Linked DNA regions of Homo sapiens: region 1 is linked to region 2. A link means that fine-mapping ties the variant in region 2 to the expression of a gene that starts in the linked region. Tissue or cell type: whole blood. Region 2 holds a variant in brackets; the other region holds the start of a gene. All regions are shown on one strand. Distances are between the middles of the regions.

Region 1 (8,152 bases), 120 kb before region 2:
AATGGTTTATAATTCAACTTCACAAATATTTACTGTGCTCTGGTTAACTGAGTATCCTTTGTGCTAGAGGTGCCAGAGAGATGCAAATGGCAGCGCCAGTCCTTGGAGGAGCCAGTCTGGGGCCCCTGGCTGATGTTGGCAGAAGACACATCCCTCTCTCCCTTCAAGGATGCTGAAGAGCTCTCTGTCTACTAGTACCCTGGGCCCACTTTTCTCTCCAACAAGGTGCAGAAAAGGGCATCGTTGCCAGGTTTGCAAGATCGTAACAAGACAGTGCATTGTAGGTATAATCTGCCGGAATGAGGAGGCGCTCAGCCTGCGCGGATTGGAAGGGCCACATAAACATCTGTCAGTCCATTGACAACAGCACCCAGAAGCCCGAATTGTGACTTCACACCGATTTCTTCCCCTGCTATAAATTCTACAAGATCGTCAACATAAATAAGACTTTCTCCTCAACCAGTTTTTCAGGGCCATGCCAGGCTTTAAAATGGGCAGGCCCCTGGCCGGGCGCGGTGGCTCACGCCTGTAATCCCAGCACTTTGGGAGGCCGAGGTGGGCGGATCACGAGGTCAGGAGATCGAGACCATCCTGGCTAACATGGTGAAACCCCGTCTCTACTAAAAAATACAAAAAATTAGCCGGGCGTGGTGGCACGTGCCTGTAGTCCCAGCTAGTCGGGAGGCTGAGGCAGGAGAATGGTGTGAACCCGGGAGACGGAGCTTGCAGTGAGCCAAGATCGCGCCACTGCACTCCAGCCTGGGCGACAGAGTGAGACTCCGTCTCAAAAACAAAACAAAACAAAACAAAACAAAAATGCAGGCCCCAGTTTCACTTGCATGTTGTTGAATTTGGAGAGTCAATCAATCAAGCCAGGTCCCACAATGAGCACAATGCCAATCTGCAGAATCTTTCAGGGCAAAAGGGAATTTAGAAAGATGAGGGAGAAAGGATCTGAAGACTGATCCGTTCCTCTTTCAATGTTCAAAGTATAAAATTTTTCTCCTCAGTTTTATCAGTTAATACTGTCCTTTACTTGGCTAATATTTATTATATAGCATAAGATGTAACAAAATTTTCTTAGGCTAGGAATGGAAAGAAAGCAATGATTCTAACTGTAGTTGGGCAGTTTAGAGTGTGATGAAGGAGAAAACAGAATTTTTTCATCACCCCTCAATGTGCATAGAACAACAGAATCACAGACCATTACCACTGACCTTTGTCATAGATTTTAGAGGTGATCTAATCTAACTTCCTAGTCCAAGTAGGCATTACCTCTCTGCCTCTGACTTATTTGTACCTACTATGTACCAGTCATTGTGCTGGGCATTAGAAAGAGACAGAGATGAAGACAACTTGGATCTCCAGGAAGGAGTTCAGCCTAGTGGGTACAGTGGCCCAAAAGAGGTTTGGACCTAGTGCTCACAGCGCAGAGGAGGAAAGTTGCAATTTCAGGTGAGAAAACAGCAAAGACTTCTTGGGAGAGGTGGTAGCTTATGTGTCACAGCCTTAATCCTCACTGTGTTTGGGCAGGTTCCTGATTGTGGGAATGCAAGAATGGATGTTGGGCATGATTCACCATCCTCCCCCACCATGTGGGCCAACTCCATGATCTCTGTGACTCACAGGGAATTGGACTTCTGATCTCTTCCTTGACCCTGTGACTTCCCAAACTGCCTTGTGCATGTCCAGGCTTTGGGGCAGGTAACTGAAGTCTTTGGCCTATGAGGTGAGAGGTCACTTGGGTGACCTGGGAGTAAATCCCTTCCCCTCCCTGGCTCTGTAAAGCCAAGTGTTAAATGAGAGACTTATATTCCAGGCAAAGGCTTTGTGCAAATGCCCATCTAAGCCATGCCCTCTGCAAGGAATCCCCTTTCTTAGTGATGATGGTGGGGAGGTGGGGAGGGTGCAGTGCAACTCCCATTCCTGATCTCCTATCACCAGAGCAGAAGAATCACTGGAGAACGACTCTGTCTGAAGCTTGTTCAGCCTGGCTTCCTTGAGCAAGCAACTTATTCACAGGTAAGTCCAAATTAATACAGCGCACACCGGCTACATAAATATTGTGCTTTGATTGTCTTCTGTAATCAAAGGCAAGGCTGCTGAGTTTGTTACTTTCCCCACCATGCAACTGCTGGAGGAGAACTCTGGGGGAAGGGAACTGAGGTTGCCCAGGTGGTTTTTGTTGCATGTGTCTAACTGCAAGTTGTGTCTCTGTCTATCGAGGGGAGGATAAGGCCCATTACATTCAGATTCAATAAGAATTTATCAAATGCCTATTTTGTGAGAGGCATTGAAAGACACAGTATCTTATTTCATTTTTAATTGAATTAGTAATGACTTGATAAGGCACAAAGGTTAGTCTAACTAACATTTTTTTTTTCCCTGACATACGAGTGATCCCTACACTATTGGCTGTGTCCACTTTATTGATTGTGAAACAGCCTAAATGCATGGAATTGGAAACTGGAAGTCATTCTACACAATACAAGAAAGCAGCACCATCTTTCCATGTACCTGCCAGTGCTATGGCTGGCTTGGCTTTTCCAGCAGTTTTCTGGACTTGGTTGAGGTGGCTTCCTAGGGGCATTTTCTCACCCCCTCCCAGCTAAGACTGCTGTTAATTTTGAATAATTTGGAGGATGCTCTACCCTTTGGGGTAGCAGAGTTTTGCAACCCACAGATCCCTTTTGCCTTGAGGAATGGTGGTGATGGTGGGTGTCAGAGATTCTGTCTGTATAAGTCCCCGGGAAAGCTCAGCTGTCGCCTGACCCGAGGGTCGTGCAGTTTCCTTAACCCTGACTTTAAGTCAGCCCTCTTTAACCCCGACTCCCAAGCTGGGCTGTCCTTTGAAAGAAAAACGAAACCGCCCAGTTCTGAGCGTCGGAAAATGGGCACTCGCTCCCTGGGGGTTTGGGGCAACTTCCCCGCTACGTCGCCCAGGGATTTTAAATAATTGCCAGCCACCAGAAACCCCCTAACCCTTAATTCTTCCCTCCGAGACCCAGCCCGCTGCTTGCCACTTCCCTCTCCAAACGCTGGCGGGGGTGGGTGGCAGCACCGAGGCGATTTTCTTCGTCTTTTTTTCCTCCGGGTTTTGTCATGGAAACGCTGACACAACCTCCAGACGGCGGCCGAGCCCGGCCGGGGACTGAGGGCTTTTGGGACCCTGCGGGAGCGCGGCGCGCACACCGCACTCCCCGGGCAACAGCTGGACGCGACCATATCCCGGGTAGGGGCGGGGGGAGCGCGACGCTCCGCCCCGGCGCTAGGGTCCCTCCCTCCTCCCGGCTCTCCGCAGGCGCCCTCCCCTCGCCGGGGGCCGCGAGTTGCATTTGGTAAAACCCAGCCCCGGAATATATAGATCGTTGGAGCGCAATGAAGTAGCCTTTGGAGAGAAGGGAGAGGGCCCGTCGGACAGCCACAGCGGCCAGCGCAGCGGCAGCGGCGGCGGCACCACCATCACCGCTCGCACCCCAGCCGCCCGGCCCGCGACCAGGCAGCGGCGGCCGCCGGCGGGATCGGAGGAGGCGGCGGAGCGGCGAGGAGGAGGAGCAGGAGCGCGCAGCCAGCGGGTCCACGCATCTCAGCACTTCCAGACCAACTCCGGCACCTTCCACACCCCTGCCCGGGCTGGGGGCTCCGAGAGCGGCCGCGAAGCGACTCCGATCCTCCCTCTGAGCCTTGCTCAGCTCTGCCCCGCGCCTCCCGGGCTCCGGTCCGCGCGGCGGGGTCCCTGCTCCTGCGCCCCGGGCGCGCTTCCCGGACACCCCGGTCCCCGCAGCCAGGACAAAGCCATGAAGCCAGCGCTGCTGGAAGTGATGAGGATGAACAGAATCTGCCGGATGGTGCTGGCCACTTGCTTGGGATCCTTTATCCTGGTCATCTTCTATTTCCAAAGTATGTTGCACCCAGGTAGGGGGCGCGTTAGCGTGGTTTTGTTGGATATTTTCTTCTCTCTCGCGCTCTAGCTCGCTCCGCCTGATTTCTGCCTCTTCCAACCCTACCTCTCCGCCTTCGGCCTCTTCGGGGCTCCTGGCTGCCCAGAGCTCCTGGCTGCCCAGATCTACCCGGGTCACCGCGTCGGGATGGGGAGGAGAAGGGAAGGTGTGCTTCGCCCTCTTCTTCCTACCGGCTCCGGGCTGGAGGATGGGACCAGGAGGGGCGGTAGTTTTTTTTTTTTTTTTTTTCTTCTTCTTTTTTTCTTTGTGTCCCTTGTCTGTCTGTCTGCGAGGTAGCAGGGAAACGGAGAGGTGTGGGAAGCAACCGGGGGTGAGGGGCTGGTTTGAGGAGAACGAAACTCCCTCCCTGCTGCTGCCGAGGTCGGAGGATGAAAGAGTTACCCGGAGCCGGCTGCTCTGCGCCCGGGCGAGCCGCCTCTTCCTGGTTGCCGGGCCGGGGGCGAAGGGTGTACGCCCCGGCGAGGTTGCGAGTCCCTGCAGCAGGCTGGGAGCCCGGGACTGGGCTCCCACGTGTCCCGGGCTCCGCGCAGAGCTGAGCAGGTGTGGAGAGTGGTCGGGTGCCCAGCGTTGCCCCTCCACCACGCGCCGGCCGTTTGCCCCCGGGGTCCGGCTCCGCAGTGACCTTGCGGCTGGTGCCCCGGGGCCTGCTCCAGCCCCCAGCCCTGAGCTGGAAACTCCGAGCTCCTGGGTCACGCCTTGACCACTGCAGTTTTGGAGGAAACTTTGGCCAGGTCCTGGGCTGACCGTCCGTTTGCATCCCCCACTTCTGGGATCCGAGCAACGGGAATCCCCCGGGCGGCGTGGGAATGAACCCCATTCCTCCGGTCCCTTGTGGCTCAGGCAAAGTTCCACGTCCGAAATCTGGACTGGGGGAGGGACGAGGCTCGTCGCTTCCTAGGGGTGCGAGGGAAAGTTTGGGTTCTGGAGAGGGAGGGGCGCCCTCGAGCGCGGCGGCCGGGGGTGAGCAGCTCGGCTGCGAAGCCCAACAGGTAGAACGTTCCGAGAAGCCTTCCGGGTAACGCGGGTCTCCCCGCCAAGCCGTGGCTCCCCTGCTCCCTTTTACCCTCCCTTAGCAGCCCCCTGCCGGGCCACGTTGGCTCAGAAATCCATTTTCTACGCCTCCGAGTTGCCTTTCTCAGCGTAGTCACAGCAATAATTTGCTTTTCTAATTGCAAGGAGGAGGGAGGTGGAAACGCATTTCCTTCCAGGGAAGTGGGGTTGGTGTTTTTCATTTTTGCCTCCCGCCTTCTCCTTTCACTGTGTATCTAACACTTTAAACAGACGCAGTCCCGAATTCATCAAGCCTGCGTTTGGGTCGATGGCAGAGGAATAAAGCTGTTCTTTCCATCAAACAGGCAGGGCTGCAGGCTGCAGATTCCTTGACAGCGCAGGGACAGACGGCCCCTTTGCCCCACTCGGTCTGGAGCAGTTGTTAAGGCAGCCACACTGCCAAGGATATGGTCCGACTCTACCACATGTAACCTCAGGACGTCCGAGCCAGCCCTGTTAAAGATGGCTTTTGTTTGCAGCTGGGTATTTTTAGTTTAATGTCAGCAAACTACAGCGGTGTTTGTCTCCTCACCCAAACCTGCGGTTGTGAAACTTATAAAGGAATTTAAAAATGGACCTGGCTTGCATTCCGGCAGGCAGGCCTTGGTTGCAGTGGGCAGGGCCAGACAGCCAGGGGTATCTCAGAGTGCCAAGCTCCAGGGCCCACCGGAGACCGGGCCAGACTCACCCCAGAGCGCCAGGGGACTGGTGGTGTACAGATACACTCGGGTTCAAACAGTTTAAACAAGGGGCCGGTGATTTGGTCTAGACTCTAGAGCTGTGTTCAGGTTTCGCTGGGACCGTGAATGCCAGTAATGCTCTGTACGAATGCCCAGAACACGGATGAGTGTCAGCCTTCAGCAGGAATGCGCTTGAGCTTCTGTGTACCTGTTAATTGCCCAGGGAAATACAATTGTCATGGAATTCTTTGTGAGAATTGGGAAATAACTTTCTAGCCAAAGATACTAGAAAGAAACTTCCAACTTGTAATTGTCACTTTGTGAAAATTTCCAGCCCTTGTTAGTCTTAAGTTGACTTGAAAGTGACATCATATCTTTTCAGCCTAGCCTTTTGGAAGAGGCAGAGAACCTTTTCTAAGCTTGTGCTGAAAAAGATCCTCTGTCGATGATCCTGCCCCATCCTTTATGTCCCCCTCTAGTCCTATTTTCTCCCATTGTTTATTATTTAGATCTCTATAAATATACTTTTCTGATATTTCCCTCCAGTCCATAGCAAATACTACTTTCAAAACATTGTGTTGAATGTAGAATTACAGATAGTTCAGTTGAAAGGCCTTCCTTATTTCAGATTACTTACAGTCCACAAAAGCTCTGTGTCAACAGTTTATCATTACACGGGGCATAAAAATATACTTTCAAATCTACATTAAACATTTTCTTTTTGAGGGGTTCATTTTATTAAGCTACACTGTTAATGACCACTGATGTGGAATCTCTTTCACTGGTTTGAATTTCTTTAAAAGTTAAAGATCCTTGCTTCTCTGAAGTATCTTGGGGGTAAGGAGAGCTGATCCTTCAGCCTGGCTCTGCAGTTTCTGTCTCTCCAGATCACCCTGGGAGAGGCAGAAGGGACCACAGCATGGCACGGATTGTGTAGCTAAAAATTTGGAGGCCTCTGGCAGGGGTTCCAGATACCTACATGTGAAATAGAAAAATAGTATTGCAAAAGCAATGGGTTCCAGGCTTCGTTGGTGGCTGGAGGGTATGAGAGGAGGGAGAGAAAGAAAAAAAGGAAGGCAGGGCGCGGTGGCTCATACCTGGAATCCCAGCACCTTGGGAGGCTGAGGCGGGTGCATCACTTGAGCTCAGGAGTTCGAGACCAGCCTGGCCAACATGGCGAAACCACATCTCTACTAAAAATACAAAAATTAGCTGGGTGTGGTGGCACACGCCTGTAATCCCAGGAACTCCGGAGGCTGAGGCATGAGAATAGCATGAACCCAGGAGGCAGAGGTTGCTGTGAGCTAAGATGGCACCACTGCACTCCAGCCTGGGCGACAGAGTGAAACTGTGTCTCAAAAAAAAAAAAAAAAAAGAGACAAAAAGGAGACAGCTGGCAAGGCTGGCTGTCCCTCTCTCTGATTCTAATCTGGGGCCCATTATCTTTTCTAATTCATAGAATTGATTAATTTGCAAATTTGAGTAATTGGTCATCAGTTGCACAAGGGTTTAGCAGAAGTGGGCCTTGTCAGTAGGATAGTTACATTTAGAAGTTTTTGATACTCTGAGTTAATAGTCTTCCTTAAGAATATTTTATAGGGCAAGGACCAGGTTTTAGACTCCATTTTAATCCCGATGTTTTTTGCACGGTGTCTGACAACAGTGGGTTCTCAATAGAATGTTTGCTGGATGAATGCATGAAGTGGTTAAACTCCAGAAGTAGACCCACTTCTCTGGTTTTCAGGAAGGTCACTTCTAGCCTTGCCAAGAATGCCTGGTCAATAACTCTGGCTCTGTCTGGTGGGGAAACTTCCTGCCTTCCTGAACTGTGACACGGACCCAGTTTAAACTAATCAGGCGCCAGACAGGAGCTTTCACCGTGACCTAAATTTGCAGCCCGTGAGGTGTAGGCAGCTGAGGCACTGCTCTGTGTCCTGGATTCTGGAGAAGGTTGGTCTTGTTTAGCCACTTAGATGGATTCTAAGGAAATCCATCCATAGAACAGACACCTTCTATGGCCGTGAACTATTCCTAAAGCTAGGGAGAATGGAACCATATACCTGTGATTTCTACACAGGTTTGAGTTCACCAATGAATGCTTCCTATGCAAGTTCATCAGCTTGCATTAAAATGTCTTGCATACCTGCCCCAGATGGCTGGGTTTTGATGGAGCTGTGTCATGCAGTGCAAAGCTGAGAGGCCCCCCAGGCTGCATTGGCACAGAGTGTGTAAAGGCAGCTCTTCAGAACCTTCCTTTTGTGTTACTCCATAGGATTGTGGTTTTTGTTTGAAATCTACTGTTCATAGAAAGAAGCCTTCAGAGGAGAAAGCCTTTTCTCTCCTGTCTGCTTCCTCTCTATTATTTTTATTTTTGCAAAATGTTTATTTTCACTGTCACCTGGGATTTCTTTGCCTCGGTTGAATGTATTGAAAGATTATATCCTTTATTTAAAGATGTCT
Region 2 (8,189 bases):
CTTTTGAAGGTTTTTTTGTGTCTCTGTCTCCTTCAGTTCTGCTCTGATCTTAGGTATTTCTTGCCTTCTGCTAGCTTTTGAATGTGTTTGCTCTTGCTTCTCTACTTTTTAATTGTGATGTTAGGGTGTCAGTTTTAGATCTTTATTGCTATTCAACATAGTGTTGGAAGTTCTGGCCAGGGCAATCAGGCAGGAGAAGGAAATAAAGGGTATTCAATTAGGAAAAGAGGAAGTCAAATTGTCCCTGTTTGCAGATGACATGATTGTATATCTAGAAAACCCCATCGTCTCAGCCCAAAATCTCCTTAAGCTGATAGGCAACTTCAGCAAAGTCTCAGGATACAAAATCAATGTGCAAAAATCACAAGCATTCTTATACACCAATAACAGACAGAGAGCCAAATCATGAGTGAACTCCCATTCACAATTGCTTCAAAGAGAATAAAATACCTAGGAATCCAACTTACAAGGATGTGAAGGACCTCTTCAAGGAGAACTACAAACCGCTGCTCAATGAAATAAAAGAGGATACAAACAAATGGAAGAACATTCCATGCTCATGGATAGGAAGAATCAATATCGTGAAAATGGCCATACTGCCCAAGGTAAGTTATAGATTCAGTGCCATCCCCATCAAGCTACCAATGACTTTCTTCACAGAATTGGAAAAAACTACTTTAAAGTTCATATGGAACCAAAAAAGAGCCCGCATTGCCAAGTCAATCCTAAGCCAAAAGAACAAAGCTGGAGGCATCACGCTACCTGACTTCAAACTATACTACAAGGCTACAGTAACCAAAACAGCATGGTGCTGGTACCAAAACAGAGATATAGACCAATGGAACAGAACAGAGCCCTCAGAAATAATGCCATACATCTACAACTATCTGATCTTTGACAAACCTGACAAAAGCAAGAAATGAGGAAATGATTCCCTATTTAATAAATGGTGCTGGGAAAACTGGCTAGCCACATGTAGAAAGCTAAAACTGGATCCCTTCCTTACACCTTATACAAAAATTAATTCAAGATGGATTAAAGACTTAAATGTTAGACCTAAAACCATAAAAACCCTAGAAGAAAACCTAGGCAATACCATTTAGGACATAGGCACAGGCAAAGACTTCATGTCTAAAACACCAAAAGCAATGGGAACAGAAGCCAAAATTGACAAATGGAATCTAATGAAACTAAAGACCTTCTGCACAGCAAAAGAAACTACTATCAGAGTGAACAGGCAACCTACAGAATGGGAGAAAATTTTTGCAATCTACTCATCTGACAGAGGGCTAATATCCAGAATCTACAATGAACTCAAACGAATTTACAAGAAAAAAACAAACAACCCCGTCAACAAGTGGGCGAAGGATATGAACAGACACTTCTCAAAAGAAGACATTTATGCAGCCAAAAGACACATGAAAAAATGCTCATCATCACTGGCCATCAGAGAAATGCAAATCAAAACCACAGTGAGATACCATCTCACACCAGTTAGAATGGCAATCATTAAAAAGTCCGGAAACAACAGGTGCTGGAGAGGATGTGGAGAAATAGGAACACTTTTACACTGTTGGTGGGAGTGTAAACTAGTTCAACCATTGTGGAAGTCAGTGTGGCGATTCCTCAGGGATCTAGAACTAGAAATACCATTTGACCCAGCCATCCCATTACTGGGTATATACCCAAAGGATTATAAATCATGCTGCTATAAAGACACATGCACACATGTTAATTGTGGCACTATTCGCAATAGGAAAGACTTGGAGCCAACCCAAATGTCCAACAATGATAGACTGGATTAAGAAAATGTGGCACATATACACCATGGAATACTATGCAGCCATAAAAAATGATGAGTTCATGTCCTTTGTAGGGACATGGATGAAGCTGGAAACCATCATTCTCAGCAAACTATCGCAAGGACAAAAAACCAAACACCGCATGTTCTCACTCATAGGTGGGAATTGAACAATGAGAACACTTGAACACAGGAAGGGGAACATCACACACTGGGGTCTGTTGTGGGGTGGGGGTTGGGGGAGGGATAGCATTAGGAGATATACCTAATGTAAATGACGAGTTAATGGGTGCAGCACACCAACATGGCACATGTATGCCTATGTAACAAACCTGTACATTGTGCACATGTACCCTAAAACTTAAAGTATAATTAAAAAAAAAGAAAAAAAGAAAGAAAAAGGAACTATTAAAAATGACTGTAGAGGCCGGGCGTGGTGACTCATGCCTGTAATCCCAGGTCTTTGGGAGGCCAAGGCAGGTGAATCATTTGAGTTCACTAGTTCAAGACCAGCCTGGCCAACATGATGAAACCCCATCTTTACTGAAAATACAAAGAAATGAGCCGGCGTGGTGGCATGCACCTGCAATTCCAGCTACTCAGGAGGCTGAGGCACAAGAATTACTTGAACCCAGGAGGCAGAGGTTGCAGTGAGCCGAGACTGTGCCACTGCACCCCAGCCTGAGTTACAGAGTGAGATCCTGTCTCAAAAAAAAAAAAAGAGTGTAGGACCACAGGCCCACAGGCATAAACTGGGATGATCCCAGGGTGACGGGGCTTTGTGTTTGCCCTAAACAGGATACACAATCCAGTAAACAAGTATTTTCTGAGTGTCTGCTGTGTGCCAGACAGTGTTCTTGCTATGAACAGAAAAGGCCCCAGGAGCTTGCCATTAAGGGATGCAGGAGGAACTGGGGACAGGGATGAGGCCATGTCAGGTGGGGACAGTGCTCTGAGGAAGACATGAAAGGTAGTGGCATTGCAGGGATGAGGGTGCCAGGAAGGCCTCTGCGAGTCCTCTGTGATAATCCGGGTGAAGGGGGTCTTAACTTAGACAACTGATAGGCAAAGAAAGGCCTGGGAGCAGGAACATCTGTCCGTTTGAAGGAAGTTTCCTGGGTGTGTTCTGAGTGAGCTGCTGAGTGGCCAGCAGGTGCTGTTCTGTGGGGTTGGGTGGAGTGCAGGTTGCAGCCTGGCCTGCATGAGCCAGCTGTCAGGGTAAAGGATGCCGAGCCACAGAGTGGTCCTCTTCTGAAGGAGGCTGTTCTGCAGGCAACAGGTTTGGAGGCCACTGCTTCGTCAGAAGGGCCCGTCCTGCCCTTTCCTACTTCGGCAGTGCTCAGAAATTGCTTATCGGGGTATTCCTTGGTCTCTGCCTGGGGAGTAGAGGAACTCAACATTGTAAATAAAAGGGTTAGCTTCTTCAAAATTCATTCTTGTCTTCTATTGTTAGAAACCAAAGCTCATGCACGAATGCCACCCACCCTGTGATTACAAACCATGGCCCTCGGGTGGGTGGGTGGCATGTGTGCATGAGCTTTGGTCTCTAAAATAGAAGTGTGAGAACTGTTCTCTCTTATGCCTGTTCCCTCCCAAGTACAGTATATCCATGTCAACTTACTCACAGGCGTGATGGTGGTTCACGTTAAGTATTCACTGTGCTTCTCAGTGGCAGGAGAGCTTTTCTTGCCTTAGCCTACTGTGTCCTCCCAGGAACTCTATGAACTAAGTACTGTGTTTATTCCTGCTTTCAAGATGTGGAAGCTGAGACCCAGAGAGGTGAAACCTAAGGAGCCCAAGGTCACACGCTTGGAAGAACAGGGGCTGGAATCCCTGACACAGTGGGCCTAGCGGAAGCCAGGGCAGGTATTAGCAGGCCCATTTTGCAGAGGGGAAGACTGAGGTGCAGTGATGCAAAATGTGTGGTGGAGGGCTGGGCCTGGAATCTGGGAGTTCTGGTTCCGGGTGACCGTCCACTAGAAAGGGAAAGGTGGCAGAACCATATATATGAGCCTGTTACTTGTTCAAGGACTTGGTCAGGGGCCTCACAGAACTTGGAAAAGAGCAACGGACTCTTCAGAGAAGTTCTTCAGAGAAGAGCTCTGAACTGGAGAGCAAGAGCTGGGAGCACCTCCCATGGCTGCAGTCTCTGGTCATTTCCAAAGCCCAGGAGAAGGCTGCATTTGGTCAACCACCCACTTCCATTTAGCCAGGGCCTTTAAATCATTCCCAAATCCTTAAAAATCACCTGGAATGTGTTTAAAAGGGCAGATTTCTGGGCCTCGAGATAGGCCTATTGAATCCGGATCTGGATTTTGGGGGCCTAGGAATCTGCATTGACACCACTCCAGGCTGCGCTGAGGGACATTCACGTTCCTCCAACATTCATGTTGCCATTAAGGGATGGAGGAGGAACTGGGGACAGGGATGAGGCCATGTCGGGTGGGGACAGTGCTCTGAGGAAGACATTCAGGGTGGTGGCATTGCAGGGGTGAGGGTGCCAGGAACATTCATATTGGAGAATCCCTGGACCTCGGTACTAAGACTCCAGAGGGGTGGAAATGACTGTGGGTTCAGTCTAAGGCTCCAGGTGGGGTGCTTCAACAAAAGACCATGGTCACTCAGGGCCAGGGCAAAGGTTATTATCAGCAGCCCCAGACACTTTGGGGAC[G/A]TGCTGGAAATATCTGCCTGACAGAGTGTTTCTGTTTTGCACCGGTATGATTCGTGTATCTGAGGGCTGCAGCCCTTCATTTTTTTTTTTTTTTTTTTTTTTTTTTTGGTATTTAAGAAAATGGTAAAATACACATAACATAAAATTTACCATTTTAACCATTTTTAGTGTACAGTTCAGTGGCATGAAGTACATTCACGTTGTGTTCATGCAGCCCAAACTTGAGAGCTCTTTTTGGAACACTCCAGGAAAGAAGGGCTGTGTACACACTAGGTGCTTAATAAGTGCTTTCAGATGACAGTGGGGTGGTGGGATTATCGGGGTGGTAGGCTACATTATCATGGATTAAGTAAGCATTCCCACTCTGTACTTTCTTAGGCAACTTAACTTCAGTCTGTAATGCTGAGGCAGACACTAGTGAGCTACGTTTAACACTTCATTTCTATTTCTGGGTGAAGCAGGATGATGAGTTCATTGTCTGGTCAATGCCAAGGGCAACTTCCCCTGCTTTCCTAGGCTCCCATGGCAGAATAGAGGATATCTGTGAAAAATCCAAATTTTCCTCCTATGTGTGTGTCGGGTAAGGGCAGCCCACAGTTATGACTGGGGCTCCAGTTTCAAATGCCGCTGACTCAAGACCGATCTGGTTGAGAACCAAACAAATGGGCCTTTTTATACTGAAGAGGAGATTTTTCTTACCACGTGTCAACAAAAGATCTGTAGACAATCTTGTTATACATTTCACACTGCTGACTTCATAAGTACAACAGCACTCACGACCCCTTTACATTTTTTGGTGTATTTGGGTTTATTTCTGTGGTTACCATGCACTGAGGGAAGTCCACAAAAGCCAGCCTGTTCAGGGCTGGAGCACGGTGCCAGTGGAATTTTGGTGAACTTCACAGCGGTAGAAGGGAGTGGACTGGGAGGTGCAGAAGTAGTGAATTTTGCAGCCGGAAGGAATCTTATATAGACTAAATCCCCCCTTATTTATAGATGAGGATATCAAGACCCAGCAACAGGGGGTGGTTCTGACCTGAGGTCACATCGCTGGTTAGGATCTCAGCCCATCACTGACTTCCTGGTCTCCAGACCCATTGACTTGCCACTGCTCGGATCTTCCCAGTCGTTGAACCCCGAGTTCCGTTGAACTAGATGCCTTGTAATATAATACACCTAACGATAAGTTTTCCTGAATTGAATATTCTTCCGAAAATCATTTATAGATTTGGTGACTTCTCCATTTTTCTTTTCCTGCATTTGGGTAGAATCAATCTTTGGCTCTGAGCAGATCTTTCTGTTTGAGTGTCTTTCCTAAGATCTTTATCTTTCTGGTTGCATTTTCAGAACCCCCTGCCTCTATTGTGATGAGAGCGCTGGGTCCGTTGGCTGTCTCTCTGGGATGACAGCACGAGTTGAAAAGTGGAGAATTGAGTCATCGGCTTTCTGGCGTGGTTTATTCTGTCCCAGAATCCCTAAGTCCTGTCTGATACTATTTAGTCACTGTCCTTGCAGTGTGAAAAGTGATTCACATGTAAGCCATGGAAAGCGCTCAGCAAGCTCTCTGAGACAGGAATTCTTGAGGAGGCAAAAGCCAACAGTGTTAATTGGAGATAGAGAGATAGGAATTCTTGAGGAGGCTGTGAAAAGCCAACAGTGTTAATTGGAGATAGACTGCCATGTGAGAGCCAAACCCCTCATGTTCTCAGGTAAAAGCTAGGAAAATGTTAGGCTCTTGTGACATGCAGTTGTCTCAGCTTCAAAGCTGGATTAATTAACTCACGTAATGCAAAATGTTTGTTGAGGGCCTATTTTGGGCCTGGTCCTACTCAAAGTAGCAACAAAAAGCAACTTGATGCTGTCTTTGACCAGAAGAAGCCATGAGAAGGTGCCCAGGTACTTATCAAAGGGCTTGGTTACATGCCCCTGTTTCCTTGTTACCCTTAAGCAATGAGAGAGAGATGCTTGAAGAAGAGCAGAAGCTCTGCTTGCTCTTTAAGCTTGGCGAGGGTTGGGTCTGTTTCCCCTCCTCCATTCCTGGGCTCCTAGTACCATGTGGTTGCTCAGTGAATATCTGCTCTTTCTTTTTAGCCTTCATGTGGGAGGCAGTTGTTGTGTAGAGGGAATAAGACTAGACTTGGGTCCAATTTACCTGGGTTGAAGTCTTTGCCCCACCACTTTGCTCTTGTCCCTGGACAAGTCACTTGATGTTGCCCAGCCTCCATTTTTGTTGCATCAATAGAGTGGAGATGCCAGCGATTGATCTTGTGACCTTGGGGGCATCACTTAACCTCCCTGACCTTGGATTTCTCATCTTTAAAATGAGGGACACTGAAGATGAGTGTGGAGCACATGTCGGAACAGACAATGAAACAGGCATTCGTTATTATCATTCCCATGTCAGAAATGGGCTACTATCTTACTGTTTTATCTCAAATGTAATTTCAAGAGAATGATACATGGTAACGTGGGTAACTTTCATTTGTCAATGTGTGGATGCGCCGCCCCTCTCCCCGGGGTGTATTCCTCAGCAGCCCGGCAGGGGAGGGCACATCCACACATTGCCTGCTTTAAATCTGTTGCCCGCTCTAATTGTGTAGACCCACTACACCCAACCAGCTTGTATCCCACAGATGGAAGGTAATTTGAATAACTGTTTAAGCCAAAATGTAATTGGAGATAAAAGCTAAATGTCTAAGGTCTAGCAGTATCAAGATGACCAGAAGTGATGCATTGGATCCTCTGCTGCTTCTGAATCATCTGGGTTAATTACCGTACTCTCCACCAGCTTTGGTCATCAAGGAGCACACAGAATCATTGCTTATAATTGAAGACTGTGGACAATGATCACATAAGATCATCCCTAAGTTACCAGTCCCTTTTATTCTAATGGACATTTGAAGAAAAAGGCCTGAACTTTCAATAAAAGCGTCGTCTTTTTGCTTTCAAGGCCCTTCAGCTAGTTCATTAGGGGATTGAAGCCAGACATCATTTGTGACTTTCCCCCTACATTTGGGGAATGGGGGATAGAATATCTTTTGTGGTTTTTGTTTACAAGAAGGAAGATTTCAGGCTTGAGCTGGAGTACGAAAGGAAATTGAAACTAAAGATTGGGTTCTGGATTTGACTAAAGTTTCTAATATTGTTCAGCCACAATAAAGCCAAAAGCGTTCACTGTATGCTCTGGCTGATATAGTAAAGCATGGGCATTTAAGAAAAGGGTTAATTAGGTCAATTAGATTAGATGTTAGGCTGCCTGTTTCTAAATACCATGGGATGTAATTTATTTCAGTGGAGCTTTAAGCCCTCATGCATGGTAGACATGTCGATTATGGATAAATTAAAGGCAAAATAAATGAATATTCAGTATGTCAGACACAATCAGAGAATGGTAGAAAAATATGTAACTTAACTTTCAACCTCTATAACAGCTAGGATTGTGCCCCATGCAAAGCTTCCTGGAAGTTTGGGAGCCCAATTTTTTCTCTCTACTTGTTGTAATTTACTTCTAGGATATAGCTGGGCCAGGAGGATTTTGTCAAGAAATGGGTGCTCAGTCTTCTGAGGCTCCATACTTCAGTTGGAAGGAAGGGGAATTTTCATATTTCTTGTTTTCTTTTTTTGTAGAGACGGGGTTTCAAGTCCAGGCTGGTCTTGAACTCCTGGCCTCAAGCAATCCTCCTGCCTTGGCTTCCCAAAGTGCTGGGATTAAAAGCA

The links. PIP is the estimated chance that this variant, and not a neighbour inherited with it, causes the effect.
Region 1: it holds the start of CHST11, and the variant in region 2 is fine-mapped to the expression of CHST11 in whole blood (INTERVAL, PIP 0.98).

The regions. Positions count from the first base shown.
Region 1 is chr12:104,453,615-104,461,766 of GRCh38, forward strand. It overlaps CHST11 (carbohydrate sulfotransferase 11), which reads left to right and starts at 3,334. Exons shown (of 3, transcript NM_018413.6): 1 at 3,334-3,915. The coding sequence starts at 3,798. RefSeq lists enhancers at 3,003-3,052, 3,073-3,152, 4,073-4,122 and silencers at 3,223-3,352, 3,433-3,602, 3,643-3,922, 4,513-4,652, 4,813-4,872.
Region 2 is chr12:104,572,684-104,580,872 of GRCh38, forward strand. All of the region lies in intron 1 of CHST11 (carbohydrate sulfotransferase 11), which reads left to right. Among named protein-coding and RNA genes, the nearest start is that of MIR3922, 15 kb to the right of the region's middle. RefSeq lists an enhancer at 7,432-7,541. The variant G/A (reference allele first, on the strand shown) is at 4,473.